Homo sapiens: one gene and its partners. The protein of the gene in region 1 interacts with the protein of each later gene in a pairwise test. Each region holds a gene or a part of one and is shown in the gene's direction. Other genes may lie near its edges. The genes, in order: RETREG3, DHRSX, SLC39A6, CMTM7, MFF, SFT2D1 and STAP1.

The links.
Region 2: the proteins of RETREG3 (region 1) and DHRSX interact in binary tests that used the Homo sapiens proteins (3 or more experiments, as listed by UniProt).
Region 3: the proteins of RETREG3 (region 1) and SLC39A6 interact in binary tests that used the Homo sapiens proteins (3 or more experiments, as listed by UniProt).
Region 4: the proteins of RETREG3 (region 1) and CMTM7 interact in binary tests that used the Homo sapiens proteins (3 or more experiments, as listed by UniProt).
Region 5: the proteins of RETREG3 (region 1) and MFF interact in binary tests that used the Homo sapiens proteins (3 or more experiments, as listed by UniProt).
Region 6: the proteins of RETREG3 (region 1) and SFT2D1 interact in binary tests that used the Homo sapiens proteins (3 or more experiments, as listed by UniProt).
Region 7: the proteins of RETREG3 (region 1) and STAP1 interact in binary tests that used the Homo sapiens proteins (3 or more experiments, as listed by UniProt).

Annotation. Positions count from the first base shown.
Region 1 is NC_000017.11:42,599,375-42,602,874, reverse strand, and holds part of RETREG3 (reticulophagy regulator 3), read left to right. Parts: intron 1-3,500. UniProt on the Homo sapiens protein: Endoplasmic reticulum (ER)-anchored autophagy regulator which exists in an inactive state under basal conditions but is activated following cellular stress.
Region 2 is NC_000023.11:2,263,477-2,266,976, reverse strand, and holds part of DHRSX (polyprenol dehydrogenase), read left to right. Parts: intron 1-29; coding exon 30-237; intron 238-3,500. UniProt on the Homo sapiens protein: Oxidoreductase that plays a key role in early steps of protein N-linked glycosylation by mediating two non-consecutive steps in dolichol biosynthesis.
Region 3 is NC_000018.10:36,108,031-36,110,185, reverse strand, and holds the end of SLC39A6 (zinc transporter ZIP6 isoform 1 precursor), read left to right. Parts: intron 1-440; coding exon 441-593; 3' UTR 594-1,655; downstream 1,656-2,155. UniProt on the Homo sapiens protein: Zinc-influx transporter which plays a role in zinc homeostasis and in the induction of epithelial-to-mesenchymal transition (EMT).
Region 4 is NC_000003.12:32,440,353-32,443,852, forward strand, and holds part of CMTM7 (CKLF-like MARVEL transmembrane domain-containing protein 7), read left to right. Parts: intron 1-1,487; coding exon 1,488-1,661; intron 1,662-3,500.
Region 5 is NC_000002.12:227,352,751-227,356,250, forward strand, and holds part of MFF (mitochondrial fission factor), read left to right. Parts: intron 1-2,926; coding exon 2,927-3,011; intron 3,012-3,500. UniProt on the Homo sapiens protein: Plays a role in mitochondrial and peroxisomal fission. Promotes the recruitment and association of the fission mediator dynamin-related protein 1 (DNM1L) to the mitochondrial surface.
Region 6 is NC_000006.12:166,319,228-166,322,386, reverse strand, and holds the end of SFT2D1 (vesicle transport protein SFT2A), read left to right. Parts: intron 1-2,130; coding exon 2,131-2,170; 3' UTR 2,171-2,659; downstream 2,660-3,159. UniProt on the Homo sapiens protein: May be involved in fusion of retrograde transport vesicles derived from an endocytic compartment with the Golgi complex.
Region 7 is NC_000004.12:67,561,727-67,565,226, forward strand, and holds part of STAP1 (signal-transducing adaptor protein 1), read left to right. Parts: intron 1-3,500. UniProt on the Homo sapiens protein: In BCR signaling, appears to function as a docking protein acting downstream of TEC and participates in a positive feedback loop by increasing the activity of TEC.

The DNA of each region.
Region 1 (3,500 bases):
ACCTCTGGGCTCAAGCCATCCTCCCACCTCAGCCTCTCAGGTAGTGGGGACTACAGGTGTGTGTCACCACACCTGGTTAATTGTTTTGTATTTTTCGTAGAAACAAGGTTTCACCATGTTGCCCAGGCTGGTCTTGAACTCCTGGGCTCCAGCAGTCCACCCACCTTGGCCTCCCAAAGTGCTGGGATTACAGGTGTGAGCCTCCACACCTGGCCTTAAGTATTTTTAATGATCATAATTAATTCTGGGGAAAATATGGAAAAATGGGCATATGGCTGATAGGAACATAAATTGGACAGCCTTTCTAGCAAGTAGTTTGGTAACATATTTTAAGCCACTTAAGAAGCTTTTCCAGGGCTGGGGGAAATGGAGAAAGAATACTAATGGGTATGGGTTTCTTTTGGAGTGATGAAAATGTTCTGAAATTACATAAGGCTATTAGTCGTACAGCATTGTGATTTTTTTTTCATCTCTGCTGCTGGCAGATGAATTGAAAGAGAATTTTATCGTATACAAACCATTATCTCAATAAAGCTATTTTCTTACTTTTTTTTTTTTGAAACGGAGTCTTACTCTGTGGCCCAGACTGGAGTGCAGTGGCATGATCTCAGCTCACTGCAACCTCTGCCTCCCAGATTCAAGCAGTTCTCCTGCCTCAGCCTCCCAAGTAGCTGGGACTACCGGCGTGCACCACCATGTCTTGGCTGATTTTTGTATTTTTAGTAGAGATGGAGTTTCACCATGTTGGCCAAAGTGGTCTTGAACTCTTGACCTCAAGTGACCCACCTGCCTCGGCCTCCCAAAGGCTGGGATTACAGGTGTGAGCTACGGTGCCCGACCAATAAAGCTATTTGTTTAAAATAGTTAATGCCTTTGACCCAGTAACATGCTCAGTGATGTATAGTTCAGCTTTTATTACATCAAAAAATTGGAAACTTTTGGCTGGGCGCAGTGGCTCATGCCTATAATTCTCAGCACTTTGGGAGGCCGAGGCAGGCAGGTCACCTAAGGTCGGGAATTCAAGACCAGCCTGACCAACAATGGAGAAACCCCATCTCTACTAAAAATGCCAAATCAGCCGGGCATGGTGGCGCATGCCTGTAATCCCAGCTACCTTGGGAGGCTGAGGCAGGAGAATCCGTTGAACCTGGGAGGCAGAGGTTGTGGTGACCCGAGATCGCGCCACTGCACTCCAGCCTGGGCAACAAGAGCAAGACTCCGTCTCAAAAAAAAAAAAAAAAAAAAAGTTGGAACCTTCTTAGTTTATTTTTCGTTTATTTTTCTTTTCTTTTTTTTTTTTGAGAGAGTCTCGCTCTGTCTGTTGCCCAGGCTGGAGTGCAGTGGCGCGATCTCGGCTCACTGCAAGCTCCGCCTCTCAGGTTCACGCCATTCTCCTGCCTCAGCCTCCCGAGTAGCTGGGACTCCAGGCGCCCACCACCACTCCCGGCTAATTTTTTGTATTTTTTAGTAGAGCCAGGGTTTCACCGTGTTAGCCAGGATGGTCTCGATCTCCTGATCTCGTGATCTGCCTGCCTCAGCCTCCCAAAGTGTTGGGATTACAGGCTTGAGCCACCGTCTTAGTTTATTTTATTTTATTTGAGATGGAGTCTTCCTGTGTTGCCCAGGCTGGAGTGCAGTGGCACAATCTCAGCTCACTGCAACCTCCGCCTCCCGGATTCAAGCAGTTCTCCTGCCTCAGCCTCCTGAGTAGCTGGGATTACGGGCACCCGCCACCATGCCTAGCTAATTTTTGTATTTTTAGGTAGAGATGGGGTTTCACCATGTTGGCCAGGCTGGTCTTGAACTCCTGATGTCAAGTGATCTACCTGCTTCAGCCTCCCAAAGTGCTGGAATTACAGGTTTGAGCCACTGCGCCTGGCCCATTCATTGTTTTTTTTGAGAGAAGGTTTCACTCTGTCACCCAGGCTAGATTGCAGTGGTGTGATCATGGCTCACTGTACCCTGGAACTCCTGAGCTCAAGTGATCATTCCACCTCATGGCTGATGAGACCACAGGAGTTCATCACCACATCAGGCTAATTGTCTATGTATTATGTGAAAAAGTTTTAAAACCATAGTGTTTTTATATGTGAATTTTTTAATGAAGAGAATAGCCTGTCTTCACACTTTTTAGAGTACATATGTGGATAATGGATCATTTTAAAAATATTTTATTATGGAAAGCTTAAAACATGTGTAAGTAGGCAGAATAATATTGTGTGCCACCATGTACATAATATTATTTTTTTCAATTCCTGGCCAATTTTGTGTCTTCCATACCCCAGTTCTTTTCTACGTCTTCCTTATTGTTTGACACAAATTATTGATGTGTCATATCATTTAATCTAGGTATTTCAGTATATTTTTCTGAAAAAGAGACTTTAAGAAACATCTGCCATCATTATCACATGCAAAAAATTAATGATTCTAGTCAGTGTTCACATTTCCAATTTTCTTATAAATGTCATAAATGATACTTTTTTTTTTCTTTTCGAGACAGGGTCTTGCTCTGTCTCCCAAGCTGGAGTGCAGTGGCACAATCAGAGCTCACTGCAACCTCAACCTTCTGGCTCTAGCAATCCTCCCACCTCAGCTTCCCAAGTAAATGGGAGTACAAGCGTGCACCACCACACCTAGCTAATGTTTTTCTTTTCAGTAGAGATGAGGTCTTGCTGTGTTGCCTAAGCTGGTCTCAAACTCTTTGACTCAAGTGATCCTCCTGCCTCGGCCTCCCAAAGTATTGGGATTACAGGCTTTAGGTACCACATGTGGCCTGTTGTGTGTGGTTTTATTTGTTGTTTTTTTTTTAAACTCTTTTTTTCCCCACAAACCAATTTGTTAGTGTTTAGGTGGTTTTTTCTGTTTTGCTTTTTTGTTTTTTGAGATAGGGTCTCGCTCTGTCACCCAGGCTGGGGTACAGTGGCACGATAACGGCTCGCTGCAACCTCAGTTTCCCGGACTCAAGCTGTCATCCCACCTCAGCCTGTTGAGTAGCTGGGATTACAGGTGCCCGCCACTATGCCCAGCTAATTTTTTGTATTTTTAGTAGAGACGGGGTTTCGCCATGTTGGCCAGGCTTGTCTCGAACTCCTGACCTCAGGTGATCCACCTGCCTTGGCTTCCCAAAGTGCTGGGATTACAGACGTGAGCCACCATGCCTGTACTTTTTTTTCGATAAACATGAATTCATGTTAGTTGTATAATTTTTTTTTTTTTTTTTTGAGACGGAGCCTTACTCTGTCACCCAGGCTGGAATGCAATGGCACAATCTCAGCTCACTGCAACCTCTGCCTCCTGGGTTCAAGCGATTGTCCTGCCTCAGCCTCCTGAGTAGCTGAGATTACAGGCATACACCACCACGCCCGGCTAATTTTGTATTTTTAATAGACATGGAGTTTCTCCATGTTAGCTAGGCTGGTCTCAAACTCCCGATCTCAGGTTATCCACCCACCTAAGGCTCCCAAAGTGCTGGGATTATAGGCATGAGCCACTGTGCCCAG
Region 2 (3,500 bases), on another chromosome or scaffold:
AACTCCTTCTGATATTCTCTTTTGTCCAGCTGGGGTGATGATGGTCCCTCAGAGGAAAACCAGAGATGGATTCGAAGAACATTTCGGCCTGAACTACCTAGGGCACTTCCTGCTGACCAACCTTCTCTTGGATACGCTGAAAGAGTCTGGGTCCCCTGGCCACAGTGCGAGGGTGGTCACCGTCTCCTCTGCCACCCATTACGTCGCTGAGCTGAACATGGATGACCTTCAGAGCAGGTAGGTGCACCCTGTGAATAATCATAACAGCATCTCAGGTGGGTTAAAGGTTATTCATCTCCCTCTGTCTGTGCGGTGTGGCGCTCCCTGCATCTGCTGGACGCTGGTGCTCTGGGAACAGTGCTCCCTGCGTCTGCCGAGCACTGGTGCTTTGGGGACAGTGCTCCCTGCATCTGCCGGACACTGGTGCTCTGGGGACAGTGCTCCCTGCATCTGCCGAGCACTGGTGCTCTGGGGACAGTGCTCCCTGCGTCTGCCGAGCACTGGTGCTCTGGGAACAGTGCTTCCTGCGTCTGCCGAGCACTGGTGCTCTGGGAACAGTGCTCCCTGCATCTGCTGTACACTGGTGCTCTGGGGACAGTGCTCCCTGCATCTGCCGAGCACTGGTGCTCTGGGGACAGTGCTCCCTGTGTCTGCCGAGCATTGGTGCTCTGGGGACGGTGCTCCCTGTGTCTGCTGTACACCGGTGCTCTGAGGACAGTGCTCCCTGCGTCTGCTGGACACCGGTGCTCTGGGGACAGTGCTCCCTGCGTCTGCCAAGCACTGGTGCTCTGGGGACAGTGCTCCCTGCATCTGCTGTACACTGGTGCTCTGGGTACAGTGCTCCCTGTGTCTGCCGTACACTGGTGCTCTGGGTACAGTGCTCCCTGCGTCTGCCGAGCACTGGTGCTCTGGGGACAGTGCTCCCTGCGTCTGCTGTACACTGGTGCTCTGGGAACAGTGCTTCCTGCGTCTGCCGAGCACTGGTGCTCTGGGAACAGTGCTCCCTGCATCTGCTGTACACTGGTGCTCTGGGGACAGTGCTCCCTGCATCTGCCGAGCACTGGTGCTCTGGGGACAGTGCTCCCTGTGTCCGCCGAGCATTGGTGCTCTGGGGACGGTGCTCCCTGTGTCTGCTGTACACTGGTGCTCTGAGGACAGTGCTCCCTGCGTCTGCTGGACACCGGTGCTCTGGGGACAGTGCTCCCTGCGTCTGCCAAGCACTGGTGCTCTGGGGACAATGCTCCCTGCATCTGCTATACACTGGTGCTCTGGGGACAGTGCTCCCTGCGTCTGCCGAGCACTGGTGCTCTGGGTACAGTGCTCCCTGCGTCTGCTGTACACTGGTGCTCTGGGTACAGTGCTCCCTGCGTCTGCTGTACACTGGTGCTCTGGGGACAGTGCTCCCTGCATCTGCTGAGCACTGGTGCTCTGGGGACAGTGCTCCCTGCATCTGCTGGACACTGGTGCTCTGGGGACAGTGCTCCCTGCTTCTGCTGGACACTGGTGCTCTGGGGACAGTGCTCCCTGCGTCTGCTGGACACTGGTGCTCTGGGGACAGTGCTCCCTGCGTCTGCTGTACACTGGTGCTCTGGGGACAGTGCTCCCTGCGTCTGCTGAGCACTGGTGCTCTGGGGACAGTGCTCCCTGCGTCTGCTGAGCACTGGTGCTCTGGGGACAGTGCTCCCTGCGTCTGCTGAGCACTGGTGCTCTGGGGACAGTGCTCCCTGCGTCTGCTGAGCACTGGTGCTCTGGGGACAGTGCTCCCTGCGTCTGCTGAGCACTGGTGCTCTGGGGACAGTGCTCCCTGCGTCTGCTGGACACTGGTGCTCTGGGGACAGTGCTCCCTGCGTCTGCTGAGCACTGGTGCTCTGGGGACAGTGCTCCCTGCGTCTGCTGGATACTGGTGCTCTGGGGACAGTGCTCCCTGTGTCTGCTGGACACTGGTGCTCTGGGGACAGTGCTCCCTGCGTCTGCTGAGCACTGGTGCTTCCTGCATCTGCTGGGCACAGGTGCTCTGGCTACGGTGCTCCCTGGAGTCTGCTGGGCATGGGTGCTCTGGGCACAGTGCCCCCGCATTTGCTGCACATTGGTGCCCGGCATAGTGCTCCCTGCATCTGCTGGGCATGGGTGCTCTGAGAACGGTGCTCCTTGCATCTCCTGAGCATTGTGCTCTGGGCACGGTGCTCCCTGTGTCTGCTGAGCACAGGTGCTCTGGGCACGGTACTCCCTGTGTCTGCTGGGCACAGGTGTTCTGGGCACACTGCTCTCTGTGTCTACTGGGCGCACGTGCCCTGGAAATGGTGCTCCCTGGATCTGCTGGGCACAGATGTTCTGGGCACGATGCTCCCTGCATCTGCTGGGCATGGTCCTCTGGGAACAGTGCTCCCTGCATCTGGTGGGCACTGGTGCTCTGGGCATTGTGCTCTCTGCGTCTGCTGAGCACAGGTGCTCTGGGCACAGTGCTCCCTGAGTCTGCTGGACACAGGTGCTCTGGGCACGGTGCTCTCTGCGTCTGCTGAGCACAGGTGCTCTGGGCACAGTGCTCCCTGAGTCTGCTGGACACAGGTGCTCTGGGCATGGTGCTCCCTGCATCTGCTGGGTAGAGGTGCTCTGGGCACAGTGCTCCCTGAGTCTGCTGGACACAGGTGCTCTGGGCACGGTGCTCCCTGAGTCTGCTGGGTAGAGGTGCTCTGGGCACGGTGCTCCCTGCTTCTGCTGGGTAGCGGTGCTCTGGGCACACTGCTACCTGTATCTGCTGGGCACATGTGCTCTGGAAATGGTGCTGCCTGCATCTGCCGGGCACAGGTGCTCCTGGCGCTGTGTTGTGGGATATGTACATCCCCAGCCATTTGCTGTCCTTGGGCAACTTAGCAATGTGCGATGGTATTGTTACTTTATTTTTTAGAAGGAACAAGAAACACAGAGGTGAGACATAGAAAAGGAAAACGGATCTATTTAAACCTTCTCTTGTGCCCCCATGGGAATGTCAGGCACTGCATCTGCAGGTGGCATTGGTGTGGACTCCTGTCGACACGCAATGTACTGTCTGTCCATCAGCAGGTCTCTCTTGTGAATTCCTCCTAACCCCGCCTTAAGGATAAAAACGATTCCTCTGTGGGAATAATCATCTTAGTTTGTTTAAGCTGATATAAGAAAAAATCCAGCAGTCCGGGTGTGGTGGCTCACGCCTGTCATCCCAGCACTTTGGGAGGCTGAGGCAGGTAGATCACGAGGTCAGGAGATCGAGACCATCCTGACCAACATGGTGAAACCCCATCTCTATTAAAAATACAAAATTAGCCAGGCGTGGTGGTGGACGCCTGTAATCCCAGCTACTCGGGAGGCTGAGGCAGGAGAATCGCTTGAACCCGGGAGGCGGAGGTTGTGGTGAGCCAAGATCACGCCACTGCACTCCAGCCGGAGTAACAACAGCAAAATTCCGTCTCAAAAAAAAAAAAAAAAAAGAAAGAAAAATTCCATAGTTTGGGTGGCTTATAAAT
Region 3 (2,155 bases), on another chromosome or scaffold:
TACCGCTAAAATTGTATTTTATTATTTTATTTTTATTTTTTACTTTGTAAGCAATCAAAGACAATATGTATCTTATATAGTATAAGGTTTTCTATCTCTGAACTAAAGACAAACTACATGTTATATCCAGTTCAGATATGCAGCCAGTAACTGAAGTAGGAAAATCAATATCGCTTTTCATTTTCCAGTGGAAACTGGAACCAATACAAACTTTTTCTTGCCCAGAACATCATGAGTAATCATTGTTAAACTGCTAGGAAATGCTGTGTGACATTGTTAGCTAGAGTCAGTATGTATGTAATCATGTTTTAAGGAATTAACTCACAGTATATCTAGCTACAAATAAAGCTAGTATACTGTCCTATAAATTTTTCTAAAAACTAATCTGTAGTTCTAAAAACTTAAATGTCACTCTTATTTTCCCTTACTTTTTTTTAAAGGTACCTGAAATGCTGCACAATGATGCTAGTGACCATGGATGTAGCCGCTGGGGGTATTTCTTTTTACAGAATGCTGGGATGCTTTTGGGTTTTGGAATTATGTTACTTATTTCCATATTTGAACATAAAATCGTGTTTCGTATAAATTTCTAGTTAAGGTTTAAATGCTAGAGTAGCTTAAAAAGTTGTCATAGTTTCAGTAGGTCATAGGGAGATGAGTTTGTATGCTGTACTATGCAGCGTTTAAAGTTAGTGGGTTTTGTGATTTTTGTATTGAATATTGCTGTCTGTTACAAAGTCAGTTAAAGGTACGTTTTAATATTTAAGTTATTCTATCTTGGAGATAAAATCTGTATGTGCAATTCACCGGTATTACCAGTTTATTATGTAAACAAGAGATTTGGCATGACATGTTCTGTATGTTTCAGGGAAAAATGTCTTTAATGCTTTTTCAAGAACTAACACAGTTATTCCTATACTGGATTTTAGGTCTCTGAAGAACTGCTGGTGTTTAGGAATAAGAATGTGCATGAAGCCTAAAATACCAAGAAAGCTTATACTGAATTTAAGCAAAGAAATAAAGGAGAAAAGAGAAGAATCTGAGAATTGGGGAGGCATAGATTCTTATAAAAATCACAAAATTTGTTGTAAATTAGAGGGGAGAAATTTAGAATTAAGTATAAAAAGGCAGAATTAGTATAGAGTACATTCATTAAACATTTTTGTCAGGATTATTTCCCGTAAAAACGTAGTGAGCACTTTTCATATACTAATTTAGTTGTACATTTAACTTTGTATAATACAGAAATCTAAATATATTTAATGAATTCAAGCAATATATCACTTGACCAAGAAATTGGAATTTCAAAATGTTCGTGCGGGTATATACCAGATGAGTACAGTGAGTAGTTTTATGTATCACCAGACTGGGTTATTGCCAAGTTATATATCACCAAAAGCTGTATGACTGGATGTTCTGGTTACCTGGTTTACAAAATTATCAGAGTAGTAAAACTTTGATATATATGAGGATATTAAAACTACACTAAGTATCATTTGATTCGATTCAGAAAGTACTTTGATATCTCTCAGTGCTTCAGTGCTATCATTGTGAGCAATTGTCTTTTATATACGGTACTGTAGCCATACTAGGCCTGTCTGTGGCATTCTCTAGATGTTTCTTTTTTACACAATAAATTCCTTATATCAGCTTGACGTCAGATGTCTGGTTTTCTTTTTAAAAAAAAATTTTTTTTACCATTGGAACCATTTTTAACTGTAGAGTTCAGTAGTTTTAAGTATATTCATGTTGTGCAATGAATCTCCAGAACTTCTTCATCCTGCAACACTGAAACTCTATACCCACTCAACGCCAACTCCCCATTTTCCCTTAGCCCCTGGTAACCACCATTCTACTTTCTGTTCCTAAAAAATTGAGCTATCTGAATTTTTAAATTATCATCTGGATTGTAGTATACTAATCAATTCATTTATAATATTGTATTGGGTGGCCTTATTCAATTTTTAAATTGTTTATCACAAAGGACACTTCAAAAAATATTGGTCCACAGTTTGTTTTCGGGTGTCTCTCTTTTTTTTTTTTTTTTTAACAACTGGACCTAAAGCTGTAGAAGAAGCATTATTAATATTCTACACTCTCAAGAGAGTCAGTGTTTTAATTCAAGATTTTTACGATGGAGAGCTTGTGATGAGAC
Region 4 (3,500 bases), on another chromosome or scaffold:
CCAAGATCATGCTACTGCACTCCAGCCTGGGCAACAGAGTGAGACTCCATCTCAAAAAAAAAAGAATCACTCCTCCATAGGAGAGAGGCAGTGTATAAAATAATCTTTTTTCTAAATTGGTTGTGCATTTTAAATAGATTCCTGGCTGGAAACAATGGCTTACGTCCATAATCCCAGCACTTTGGGAGGCCAAGGCAGGGGGATTGCTTGAGCTCAGGAGTTTGAAACCAGCCTGGGCCACATGGCAAAACCCCGTCTCTACTACAAATATGAAAATTAGCCAGGCATGATGGCACACGCCTGTAATCCTAGCTACTTGAGAAGCTAAGGTGGGAGGATGACTTGAGCCCAGGAAGCAGAGGTTGCAGTGAGCTGAGATTGGTTCACTGCACTCCTGCCTGGGGAACAGAGCCAGACTCTATCTCAGAAAAACAAAAACTAAATAACTAAATAAATAAGTAGATTCTAAGATTTTACACACATTGAATCCCGTGTGTTACTGGTTTGTTCCCTACATGGAGTAGACAGGTTTTCTCTTTGGCCTTCACGGAAGCTCAGACTGTTACTCATTCTACTTTCTTGTACTCATGCATTGCTAATAGTTTTCATCTGGTTATTAATTCAGTAGCAGGCCGTTAAGCATGTTCACTCGTGCTGAGATATTTCTTAGTGAGCTCTCACCACATGCCCTGATGGTGAGCAGCCTCACCTCTTAAACAGGATTCCTGCATGGTTGAGAACCCGTCCACCTTTCTCGGCTTGTTATGATCAGAGCTTACACTTTTGGGAGGTAGAACTGCATCTGACATGGAGGAACATGGTCCTTAGAGTCAGACAGACCTGGATTCAAATCCCACTTCTGCTTACAAGCCAGATAGCCTTGGACTGATGATTGAACCTGCATGCCTCCGTTTCCCCTTATGAACATGGGGATGATTTTGTCTACCTGGCAGGGTTCTGCATGGCCTTAGCGAGATCACGTATGTCAGACATCAGTAAATGGTAACTTGTTATCTGTCAGTTGATAGCTGTAAGGTATGAATTACCATCTTTGTAGGTCAAAAACCATCAAATATTGGCAACTTCGTACAATTGGGCCTAATATGTAAACCCCAGGTCACCATCACGCTGTCCTCTTTGCTCTATGGATATCCAGCAGATGAAAGGGATGGTTCTGCTTTGTTATTTTCTTGTTTTCCTGCTTCTTCTGAGGGGGCTTCCCGCTGGCACAATCTAACAAACTTCAGAGAGGACGAAGTCAGTCTCTGCTGTCATCAGTGTTCACAGACAGTAGTTTCAAAGTGTGTACCACATGAAGTTGCAGTCTTCCAACCTTCCAGCCAGTGTGTATGGAAATAACCTGAATTGTATTAATAGCAGTTCTTCAATGTGGGCCTGCTGGGGGATGCTTGGTTGTTTTCCGTTGTTTGTTCCCTGGGTGCCCGTCTTGGGCAAGCATTTCTCTGATGTCTCTATTTATGTGGCAGGTCACCCTGCTGATTGCCTTCATCTGTGTGCGGAGCTCCCTGTGGACCAACTACAGCGCCTACAGCTACTTTGAAGTGGTCACCATTTGCGACTTGATAATGATCCTCGCCTTTTACCTGGTCCACCTCTTCCGCTTCTACCGCGTGCTCACCTGTATCAGCTGGCCCCTGTCGGTAAGAGAGTGGTCTGGCCCTGTCCTCCGCATGCACAAGTCAGGATGTTAGCTAGAGTACTGAGACCTGACAGAGTTTTTCCCGTCTGCCCATCTCACCTCTTTAACCATTCTTTGCTGCCTCTGCCCTGAATTTCCTATTGTTTGGTGGACATCTCTGCTTGATGTCCTGCTGGTTTTTAAAACTCACTTTCCAGCTACAAGAAGGCTGTGGCTGGCCGGGCGCGGTGGCTCACGCTGGTAATCCCAGCACTTTGGGAGGCTGAGGCGGGCGGATCACGAGGTCAGGAGTTCGAGACCACGGTGAAACCCCGTCTCTACTAAAAAATACAAAAAATCAGCCGGGCGTGGTGGCGGGTGCCTGTAGTCCCAGCTACTCAGAGAGGCTGAGGCAGGAGAATGGCGTGAACCCGGGAGGCGGAGCTTGCAGTGAGCCGAGATCGAGCCACTGCACTCCAGCCTGGGTGACAGAGCGAGACTCCTCTCAAAAAAAAAAAAAAAAAAAAAAAAAAAAAGAAGAAGGCTGTGGCTATTGCCCCATGCTTACTTTCTCAAGCAACAGAGAATGGCTGTGTGTGTATGAGTTGGGAAAAGGAACACGGAAGGAAATTGTAGGTGAAGATGATGGGTATTGATGCTGTTGTGAGGATTGAATGATAGGATTTTCTGGCTAAAAGAGACTAGTGGGGGCTGAGGAGACAGTCAGAAGTTGCCAGACTTTTTCTTCCCACTGTATTATTTTTTAAAGCTTCATTGAGATGCAGTTCATATGCCGTATTGTTCACCCATTTCAAGGGTACAATTCAATGGAGTTTAGTATATTTCCAGAGTTGTCCAACCATTACTACAGTCAACTTGAGAACATTTTCATCATTTCAGAAAGAAATTCCATACCTTTTAGCTGTCACCTCCCTACCACTCATCCCTCCAGTCCTAAGCAATCACTAATCTTCTGTCTCTAAAATTTTTCTACTCTGAACGTCTCATGTAAATGGAATTGTATATGTGGTCTTTTGTAACTGGCATCTTTCACTTAGCTGAATGTTTTCATGGTTCATCCATGTTGTAGCAGGTATCAGTATTTCATTCCTTTTTTTCTTTTTAGAGACAGGGTCTCACTCTGTCACCCAGGCTAGAGTGCAGTGACGTGATCGCGACTCACTGCAGCCTCAACCTCCCAGGCTCAGGTGATCTTCCCACCTCAGCCTCCCGAGTAGCTGAGACTACAGGTGCATGCCACCACACCTGGATAATTTTTGTGTTTTTTTTTTTACAGAGATGAGGTTTCATTGTGTTGCCCAGGCTGGTTTCAAACTCCTGGCCTTAAGCAATCCTCCCACTTTGGCCTCCCAAAGTGCTGGGATTACAGACATGAGCCACCATGCCAGCCTTTTTATAACCAAATTTTATTCCATTGTGTGGATAGACCAGACTGCATTTTGTTTTTCATTCATCTTCAGTGGACCTTTGGGTTGTTTTTACCTTTTGGCTATTATGAATAATGCTGCTATGAGCATTCATATACAAGTTTTTTGTGTGGACATATTTTCATTTTTCTCTGGTATGTATCTAGGAGGGGAATTACTGAGTCATATGGTCACTTTGTGTTTAATTGTTTGAGGAACCGCCAGACTGTATGCCAAAGTGGCTCACTGTTTTACATTCCCACCAGGAGTGTATGAAGGTTCCAGTTTCACAACATCTTTGCCAACACTTATTATCTGACTTTCTGATTCCAGCCATTCTAGTGAGTGTAAAGTGTTATTTCCTGTGGTTTTGATTTTCATTTCTCCAGTGACTAATGATGTTAATCATCTTTTCATGTGCTTTTGGCCATTTG
Region 5 (3,500 bases), on another chromosome or scaffold:
GGCCAATTAGTATGAGGGAAAATGTTTAATAATTATGGTATGATGTGAACAGCTATTTTATTTAAGTGTAGTGTTAATAGTTTATAGGTGGTTTATAATAATTTACATGCTAAAACAGAAAAAAGTCTTAAATCTTATTTTATGTACATCATTTTAATGGTTGCCTGAATTGTGCCCAGCATTTCCTTTTAAGTTGTTAATTATCTGGAATGTTACTTTTAGTGTGTGAACAAACCTGTCTTTGTTTGTAAGGCTTCATCTTAAATTGGGAGAAATCAGCATTAACAACTCCACAGTTTGGGAAGGTACATATTTAGAAAGGAAATTTAGTTTTAAGCATTTTTATCATCTGTTGATTTAAGGCCTTCTCTCTTATTTTTGCCCTTTTTACACTTTCAGACACGCGTAGGTTGAGCGTTCCTTTCTTCCTGACACGCACAGAGGCTGGCAGAATGGCACATACAAATACATGCAGTTCTTAAGTGCCAAAATCCCCATTTAGTTTTCCTATAGTCTGGAAAAAATCAAAAACTTGTTGGTATTCACAGATGCTATTACTGTATAATTTTTTCAGTCAGTTTTATTTAAGCAGAAATATATTGTCGGTAGCAGTAGATTTAAAACTGGCAGCATCGTTTCTGTGCTTAGAAGTTGGTGCATTCATTGAAGCAAGAGAAAAGGGAAGCATTAGCTGCTCATTAAAATTGAATTCATGGTGGAGGAATTGAAAAGCGTGCCTGTGGTAATCCCTTACCACTCTGCTGACTTGTTTCTTTTTACAATCTTAGTTCAGTTCATTGTCGTTTTCCCTTATATTTTTCTCTAAGTTTGTGATCTTTTATCTTTCTGTCAGAGTATTTTCAGCCAGTGGTCTAACTTAGCATTAGAGTTTTTTAGTTCTAATAAATACGGTTTTTGTTTAAAACACAATGTAAAGTAACATATTTTTGTTTTAAATTGAAGTATATAGGTAAAATCTTTTGTCATATCCTTATATTTCTTTGCAAATCGAGATTTCAGATATCTAAACCTTAGTTAATTCAGGATATAAATTGTGAGTAATCGCTTTCATTTGTACTTCATTCTGTATGTTCAGTTCAGATCCCTTTAACAATTGCTTCTGTTTGATTTTTTTCCTAATTATTCCTCTGTTATGTGGCCTCAGAGAAAGAGAAGAGTTTTATTTTGAGGATGAAGTGAAGGAAAAGGGAATCTTCTACCTTTATTTTTTCCACTAATCATTTGTAAACCCATAGTTCCAGCATCTACTAACTTAGAAGTTTACTTCTCTAACTGGTATAATTACCCTAACTGCTCCAGGTTGTTTACTGTGTTCTCATGAAATAAGGAGACAGTTAATGAGAAAGCAGGATAATTTAGCCATAGAAGGAATATTTGGAGATGGTTGTAGATTATCTAGAGTCAGTACACACCATCTATTGTTTAAGGTTTTTTGCATACTTTATTAAAGTATTTTTATTACTTTTAACAATATTTAAAACAAAAGGATTTTCTGAGTAGACTTGTCTTTAACATGTCTGGATGAAAAGTATAATTCTGCTTCATATCCCTTTTTGTGGGTATGTACTTTTTGTAGTGGGGACTTGCTGGGATAGGTATTAGAATAGATGATCCATTTGCCAATTCTCTGGACTACACAGGAATAACTTTTAATTTAGTTTATTTATATTCTGCTCATTTAGAAAATTTACTATGCCATTTTACTAAAATAACCATTTAGGGTATAAAATACATGTGAGGTGAATTATGTGGTTATATAAGTTGTATCTCAATGAAGCTATTAATTAAACTAAATTTTAAAATGTGGAAATCCAGGCAAAGAAGAGGAATGGCGTTTGTCTTTGTTTTTCAGAGGTTTAGTGTCATTCACCTAGAAATTAGTGCCGCTTTAGAAGTAACTACATTGGAACAAAAAGTACTTTTTTAATATGCTTTCTCTGGATTTTGTCTTAATGGTTTTTCAGTATTATTTTATACACAGCATTTTATTCATTATTGGGCCAATTCTGGAGCTAAATGTAGTGGTAAGATGTATTCAGGAGATTTTATAATTGTTTCTGCGGGAGAACACAGTAGAGCATAAGTAATTGGAAATAAGTAAAGAATAGGCCAGGCGTGGTTGCTCAGGCCTGTAATCCCAGCAATTTAGGAGGCTGAGGTGGGTGGATCACCTGAGGTCAGGACTTTGAGACCAGCCTGGCCAAAATGGTGAAACCCCATCTCTACTAAAAGTACAAAAATTAGCCGGGCATGGTGGCAGGTGCCTGTAATTCCAGCTACTTGGGAGGCTGAGGTAGGAGAATCACTTGAACCCCAGAGGTGGAGGTTGCAATGAGCCGAGATTGTGCCATTGCACTCCAGCCTGGGCAACAAAAGTGAAACTCTGTCTCAAAAAAATAAAAAGACAAGAAGTAAAGAATAAAAATGGCAAGACAAGAGGCAGTGAGAAGAGGTGATGAGTCTTTCTTTTTTTAGAGTTAGTCTACTTTGTGTTCCCTGCTAGTGAGTCTGTGCCTATGGGCTTACATATGGACATAAGTTTGTGTAAGAATTATATTTTGTTCTATCCTAAGTGGCAGCTCTCAAACCTTTTCAGCCAGGGACCCTTTTTAGCATCGCCAATCCTTCTGGCTTGAGAATTTTCTATGTGTTTCTTTAGTCAGGATTTTTTTCCCATTCTCCAGTTTTTAGTGCCCTTTTTCAATATTGTAGACAGTTGTCATTTTAAGCTTTTTTCTTTCCTTTATTAGTACAAATTCAGGTAGTAAAATATTTTAGTAATTCATATTATTAAGTACCAATTTTCTGAATACTACTTTGAGCATTACACAAAGCATGATGTGGCGTGCCATTTACTCTGAGTTCTACTTTACTATTCATTTGTATTTCTATCTCTTATCTGCAGGTATGGCATTTCAAATATAGATACAACCATTGAAGGAACGTCAGATGACCTGACTGTTGTAGATGCAGCTTCACTAAGACGACAGGTATTTAGTGTACCAAATAAGATATATTTCTCAGTTATATTCATACAATATTTTAAAGTGATAGTTCTCAACATTTTATTATTTTCTCTCCTGTGGGACTATCAAACTAGTAAGCCATCATTGATTTTCTCATTTTGATTAAAGATATATTAAACTACCATTTACATGTTTTGATCACCGTAAAACAGTATTACCAAGATAGATTAATGTAATTCTGGCCAGTAACAAAGAATCTTTAGCAAACCAGTACAGCCATCAGTTGCTTGTTTGGCTTTTGAAATGTGGAACAATTACTTTGGAACCTTTGTTACTGTGTTTAATAACTCCATTTTGGAAACCGCTCCTTGCAGCTTGCACAGCATCCCTGCATACGTATTTCCTGTATTCTGTAATAAATCCTTTCTTAGAACTGCAGTTGCACATGCATATTTTTTAATATGTACTCCCACAGCCTCGAGTATCACACAGACATACACACATGTGAAGAAG
Region 6 (3,159 bases), on another chromosome or scaffold:
AATAGCAGCTTGCCATGATAATGTCTGTATGGAAACATTTTGGCGACATGGAGCAGCTCTGTGGGGAGTATCCTCCCGCCCTGCTGCCTGGCGTGCACTAGGGAATGTGGATGAGATTCTGGACCCTTCCATGGCTTTAGGAGTTCAGAAAATAGGACACAGAGACTCCAGGAAAACAAATTCTACTTAAGAAAAGGAAGTTACGGCTGGGTGCGGTGGCTCACACCTGTAATCCTAGCACTTTGGGAGGCCAAGGTGGGCAGATCACTTGAGGTCAGGAGTTCAAGACCAGCCTGGCCAACATGGCAAAACCTCGTTTCTACTAAAAAATACAAAATTAGCTGGGTGTGGTGTGGGCGCCTGTAATCCCAGCTACTTGGGAGGCTGAGGTGGGAGAATCACTTGAACCCAGGAGGCAGAGGTTGCAGTGAGCCAAGATCGTGCCACTGCACTCCAGCCTTGGTGACAGAGCCAGACTCCATCTCAATAAAAAAGGAAGTTACTGGGAAAATGAGGGCTTACACATAAATGCTTATTTTTGGTCAGCAAAAACATTTTAATTGTATGTCAAGAGGTAACCGGCATTTTAAAATATTTTTCCAGAGAAATGTATTTAGCCGTGGAGGAGAAAACAAAACTAGTTCCAATTTTAAATCTGATAGATTTAGAAAAAGATTCTGGTGAGGCACAGCTTTGCCTGTTTGTGAAATTCAAAGATATGTTATATATTTAAAAACAGCAAAATTGTCTTTAATACGAACAGTGAAGGAAATTGGTAGAAATTTTATTTTTATTCCATTTCAAATGTATGATTCTTTCTGATAGATACTTACAAGGAGAAAAAGCAAAACAAAGTTAGCTACAGGTGAGAAAGCTGCTTAACAGGAGTGTGCAAGGGTAATTTACCATGCATAGGAACTTTAGAGCAAGGAGACCTCCAATACTTCTTGGTGCGGAGGAAAGGACCTCTAGACGTGATGTCCCATACAAGAGGCTCTGAAGAGATGGCAGGACTTCAAGAACATGACCAGCCTCTCCAGACACAGGATCCCACACTCGAGAGCAATAAGCAATGTACAGATTTTGCCTATAAGAATTTTATTAGTGGATATTTTTTATGGCCTAGGTAAAAGCTTTTTTAATGAATGAAGTATCAAGTAATAACAGTTTTGGAAGAAAATATGAAAGGTCACACTTCAATCTTCTTTTAATTCTGAGGATTCAGTTATAAACATTACAGTTTTGAAACTCAGTTCATTAGTTCTTTTTTTTTTTTGAGATGGAGTCTCATTTTGTCACCCAGGCTGGAGTACAATGGCGTGATCTCTGCTCACTGCAACCTCCACCTCCCAAGTTCAAGAGTTTCTCCTGGCTCAGCCTCCTGAGTAGCTGGGATTACAGGCACGTGCTGCCGCTGCCACGCCCAGCTAATTTTTGTGTTTTTTAGTAGAGATGGGGTTTCACCATGTTGGCCAGGCTGGTCTTGAACTCCTGACCTCAAGTGATCCACCTGCCTTACAGGCGTGAGCCACCTTGCCTGGCCTAGTTCTTTTTAAAAATTAAATCTTTGGGCTGGGCTTGGTGGCTCATCCCTGTAATCCCAGCATTTTGGGAGGCTGAGACGGGTGGATGGCTTGAGCGCAGGAGTTTGAGACCAGCTTGGGCATCATAGCAAGACCCTATCTCTATTAAAAAAAAAAAAAAAAAAATTAGTGTAGTGGTGTGCCCTATAGTCCCAGCTCCTTGGGAGGCTGAGGTGGGAGGATCTGCTCACGCCACTGCACTTATCCTGGAAGACAGAGTGAGAACCTGTCTCAAAAGGAAAAAAAAAGAAAAAAGTTAGATCTTTTGTTAGGTTATTTTTGGTATTTAAACTTATTTCTTTGATTGAGATCAGTGTATATGCCAGTAAAAATTTCTTAAGATAAATACCATGTCAAAAATCAGCAAAATGTTTTCAAATCTTAGCTCTTAATCTTAAATGATACTGAACAAAGTTTTTATTAATCAAAAAGTGTGTTGGAGCATCCATTGAGTTCTGTTAAAAAAGGTGATTTAGCAGGAACATTTTGCGCAACTTTGCTTTTGAGGAATATTATATTCTGTTTTTTTCCCTCTCTTTTCCACCAGGGATGCAGTTATTAAATGCTGTTCTTCTCTCCTAAGTTGAAAATCAGAAACTTGTGGAAAAGAGCACTTGAATGTTGGTACTCTATGTTTGGTGAAGTTTGCTTTTCCCCATAAAACACTCCAGGAACAACTGACGTGACAGTTGAAGACCGTTTTGTACTAAGTCTCATTTTGTATACTGGTAAAAACTACATGCTTGATTAAACCATTAAATGCTTGTAACTTTAAATTCATTATGTGTCATTAATATACTTTTCCAAAGATAAGATTTTTAATCACTGCCAGTTGTAAATTATTTTTAGCCAATTTTTAAATCTTTTCAAAGCAGCTTTGAAATGTGAATATTTAAAGGTAGACCTGTGCTGCAAGATAATTAAACTTTTTTGCTTTTAAAAAATGTCTGCATTTTTAAGATTTTTTTTACTTTAAATGTGAAACTTATTTTAAGCTAAAAATTGCTTATTATATGTAATAAAAATAATATATAAATCTTTACAATTTTGAAATAAACCCATCCTTGGAAAAATAACATTTTCTGAATCAAATTTATAATATTTTAAGTGACTCAATTCAATAATATTTAGTTTAGGCACTATACAGTCTCTCTGTAGAAAAATGAGGAAGATACAGTCTCTCCCCTAAATAATACTGTTAAATACAAATTGTGAGAGATAATGGGACTGACAGCAGAGCCCATTCCAGGAAGTGCAGGGGGAGGAGGTGAGGCGGCATTGACTGTGAGGGTGTCAGGAGAAGTCAGGCCACTGGACAGTAGTGGCAGCAGGAAGCTACCTTCACCCCAGGCTGGAGGAGAAGCAGAGAGGGCGGAGAACTAGCCAGCGCCCTCCTCCTCCCTGCAAGTCTCCCACTGGCTGTCCTGGTCTCCTCAGTTGCCAGGGAGAGGCAGATAGGCGGGTGCCAGCATGATGTGGTGCCAGCAGGAGGGAAGGCGGCTCTATGTCTGTCCAGGGTAGGGAGAGTTAATAAAGAGCATACAACAGGGTAATGGGAGCAGCATTTTATGCACAG
Region 7 (3,500 bases), on another chromosome or scaffold:
TCTTACAAATGGGAAAATTTCTCATTTTTTCTGGGACCGTTTGAAAATAAGAGAGAGTGTGGGTGGGCCGGGAGCGGTGGCTCATGCATGTAATCCCAGCACTCTGGGAGGCCCAGGTGGGCGGATCACGAGGTCAGGAAATGGAGACCAACCTGTTCAACATGGCGAAACCCCGTCTCTACTAAAAATACAAAAATTAGCAGGGCATGGTGGCACGCACCTGTGGTCCCAGCTACTCGGGAGGCTGAGGCAGGAGAATCACTTGAACCTGGGAGTCAGAGGTTGCAGTGATCCGAGATCGCGCCACTGCACTCCAGCCTGGCAATAGAGCGAGACTCTGTCAAAAAAAAAAAAAAAAAAAAAAAGAAAGAAAGAGAGAAAGAAAGAAAAGAAAAAGAAAGAAAATAAGAGATAGTTTGGGCAACGTCTCATAATTTCTTCAATCTGTGATGTGCTAAAGTAAAAAAAAAAAACAGTGTGTGTGGGCCGGGCCCGGTCCCAGCTATTCGGAAGGCTGAGGCAGGAGAATCGCTTGAATCTGGGAGGCGGAGGTTGCAGTGAGTCAAGATCGTGCCACTGCACTCCAGCCTGGGTGACAGAGCGAAACTCCGTCTCAAAAAAAAAGGAAATTTTTTAGGGCTGTCTAAGTTGTGCTCACACACAGTTCTCTATGGCAGTAATCTCCAAATTTTAAAATAACACACTCCTTTCAGGAAAACATTTTGAGCACAGATCCCTAATATAAGAATATTAATTCAGCCGGGCGTGGTGGCTCACGCCTGTAATCCCAGCACTTTGGGAGGCCGAGGCGGGCGGATCACGAGGTCAGAAGATTGAGACCATCCTGGCTAACAAGGTGAAACCCTGTCTCTACTAAAAAAAAAAAAAAAAAAAAATTAGCCGGGCGAGGTGGTGGGCGCCTGTAGTCCCAACTACTCAGGAGGCTGAAGCAGGAGAATGGCGTGAACCCAGGAGGCGGAGCTTGCAGGGAGCGGAGATTGCGCCATTGCACTCCAACCTGGGCAACAGAGGGAGACTCCATCTCAAAAACAACAAAAAAAGAATATTAATTCATTTGGAAATTATAAATATATATATTCCCGTACTATTAATCCATGTAAATTATTTGATATATAAAAAATGAATTAAGAAATATGAAATAAAATATAATTAAATATTCTAAAATTTTCTCTCCCAATGGATCATCTTGCACACCTTTGGAATTTATGCATCCCATTTTGGAGACCACTATACAACATTCTTCCTTAGGTAAATGTACTTTACTTGCGCACAAAAACAAAGAATGAGAGCTTTTTATTGGGGACAGAGGAAGAGAAACTTAACTGGAGCTTGCATTGTAATTCATTTTTGCTAGTTAATTCATTTTTGCTAGTTGTATTAATGAGAAAAGAGCACTGGGAAGTCAAGAGATAAAAGTATCAGTCCAATTCTAGAATTTGGGCGATTCCTTCACATTTTTAAATCTGTTCTCTCCTTTCTAAAAAGAATAATTACTCTCTTGCATAGCTGAATAGGTTGCTCCAATGACTAAGTGGACTATATAATAATGAATGCAACCTTTTGAGGTATAACATATAATGGATCCCATTCTAGGCTCTTAGTGTTCTGTCACTGTGATCCTTACAGTAACTCTTCTGGGTAGAAATTATTTTATTCACTTCACAAATGAGTGAGTAGGTGAGGCATGCTGGCTCATCCCTGTAATCCCAGCACTTATGGAGGCCAAGGCAGGAGGATTGCTTGAGGCCAGGAGTTGGAGATCAGCCTAGGCAATATAGCGAAACCCCATTTCTACAAAATCAAAAAATTAGCCAGGCGTGGTGGCACACCCTGTATTCTCAGGTACTCGGGAGGCTGAAGTGGGAGGATCACTTGAACCCAGGAGTTCGAGGCTGCAGTGAGCTATGATTGCATCACTGCACCCCAGCCTGAGCAACAGAGCGAGACCCTGTCTCTCTAAAACAACAACTCCAAATAAACAAATGAGTGAGTTCTGGCCACAGAGGTTATTCAAGGTTCCTCTTCCATTAAGGAGGCTAGCTTGGATTTGATTGTGATGCACTTGACCATGCTGCTTCTCAAACTCAAATTCTACCATTTGATTGTAGGTTTCCTAGTTAAGCTAGTGATAAATTCAGAAGTCTTATTTCAGCCTCTTTTCTTACATCAATGATTTCACACAAACGATTGTTAAAAAAAAAAAAAAAGAAATTTGTGCTTCATTCCAAAGATATGTCCTTCCAAATTAATTTTTTTAATTTTTAAGTATTTCTCTAGATATGAATAGGTACCTAGATGTTGTTTATTGAGATTGATATTTATAAATGACTCAGATTCTATGTGTATTTATTACATCTTATCGAAATGAAATCAAGATTGTGACCTGTAAGTCTCTGCATACTGAATATAAGTTTGGTCTGTCCTTAGGTTTGCAGCTGTGGTTGCAGTTCACATGGTCTAATGCTATTTGTAACCTTACTTTTCCTCCAGGGCTGCCTTTGCTTTCAACTTAGTGCCTTTATACTTGCTTTTCCCCCCATTTAATAAATCCTTAATCCTTTCCACAAGTATATACGTTTGCTTACCTGTAAAACTCCCATTTTTCCCTATTTAACTTTACCCAATTCATATCATTCTTTTGAGACTGAACACCTCTACAATTTTTCTCGATAGTGCAATGGAGGTCTGCATGTACATACAGAGGGAATTCAATAAACCTTTACTGGCTATCAGTAATACTAGTTTTTATACCTTATGGCAGGGTAATACTGTAGTTATGAGGCTGATTAGGACGATGAACAGAGTGGTAGGCTTTGACTTCAGGGTTTTCTCTTGTATTTTTTTCCTCCAGGAATCATACAATCCTGGAGTTGGACTAGATCTTAGAAGCCATACTTTAGTAAAATTGCACAAATGACACTTTGGGAGCCTGAGGCGGGTGGATCACTTGAGGTCAGGAGTTCGAGACCAGCCTGGCCAACATGGTGAAACCCTGCCTCTACTAAAAATACAAAAATTAGCCAGGCATGGTGGCATGTGCCTGTAATCCCAGCTACTTGGGAGGCTGAGGTGGGAGAATGGCTTCAACCTGGGAGGCAGAGGTTTCAGTGAGCAGAGATCAAAATCACACCACTGCATTCCACCCTGGGTGACAGGAGACTCCATCTCAAAACAAACAAACAAACAAACTACACAGATGATAAAGTTCTCAGAACAATATGCATTTCTCTACATTCCCATCTCCTCCTGCACTGTTCCTCACCTGCTTCCCAGCTCCAAAAAACAGGAGAGCCTTGATTTACTCCTTTCATTGCAGAGGCTTACCATTAATGCAGGGTGGGGAAGCCTTAAAAAGAGTTGGTCGGATAAGCAAAGAAACAAAACAACTTGCAAGATAAATTTTAATTATTTTGTTATGTAATTATAGGTCAGATTGAGAAAGTACAAGTATTTTTTAACAGAGTGAAAAAAACTAGTCA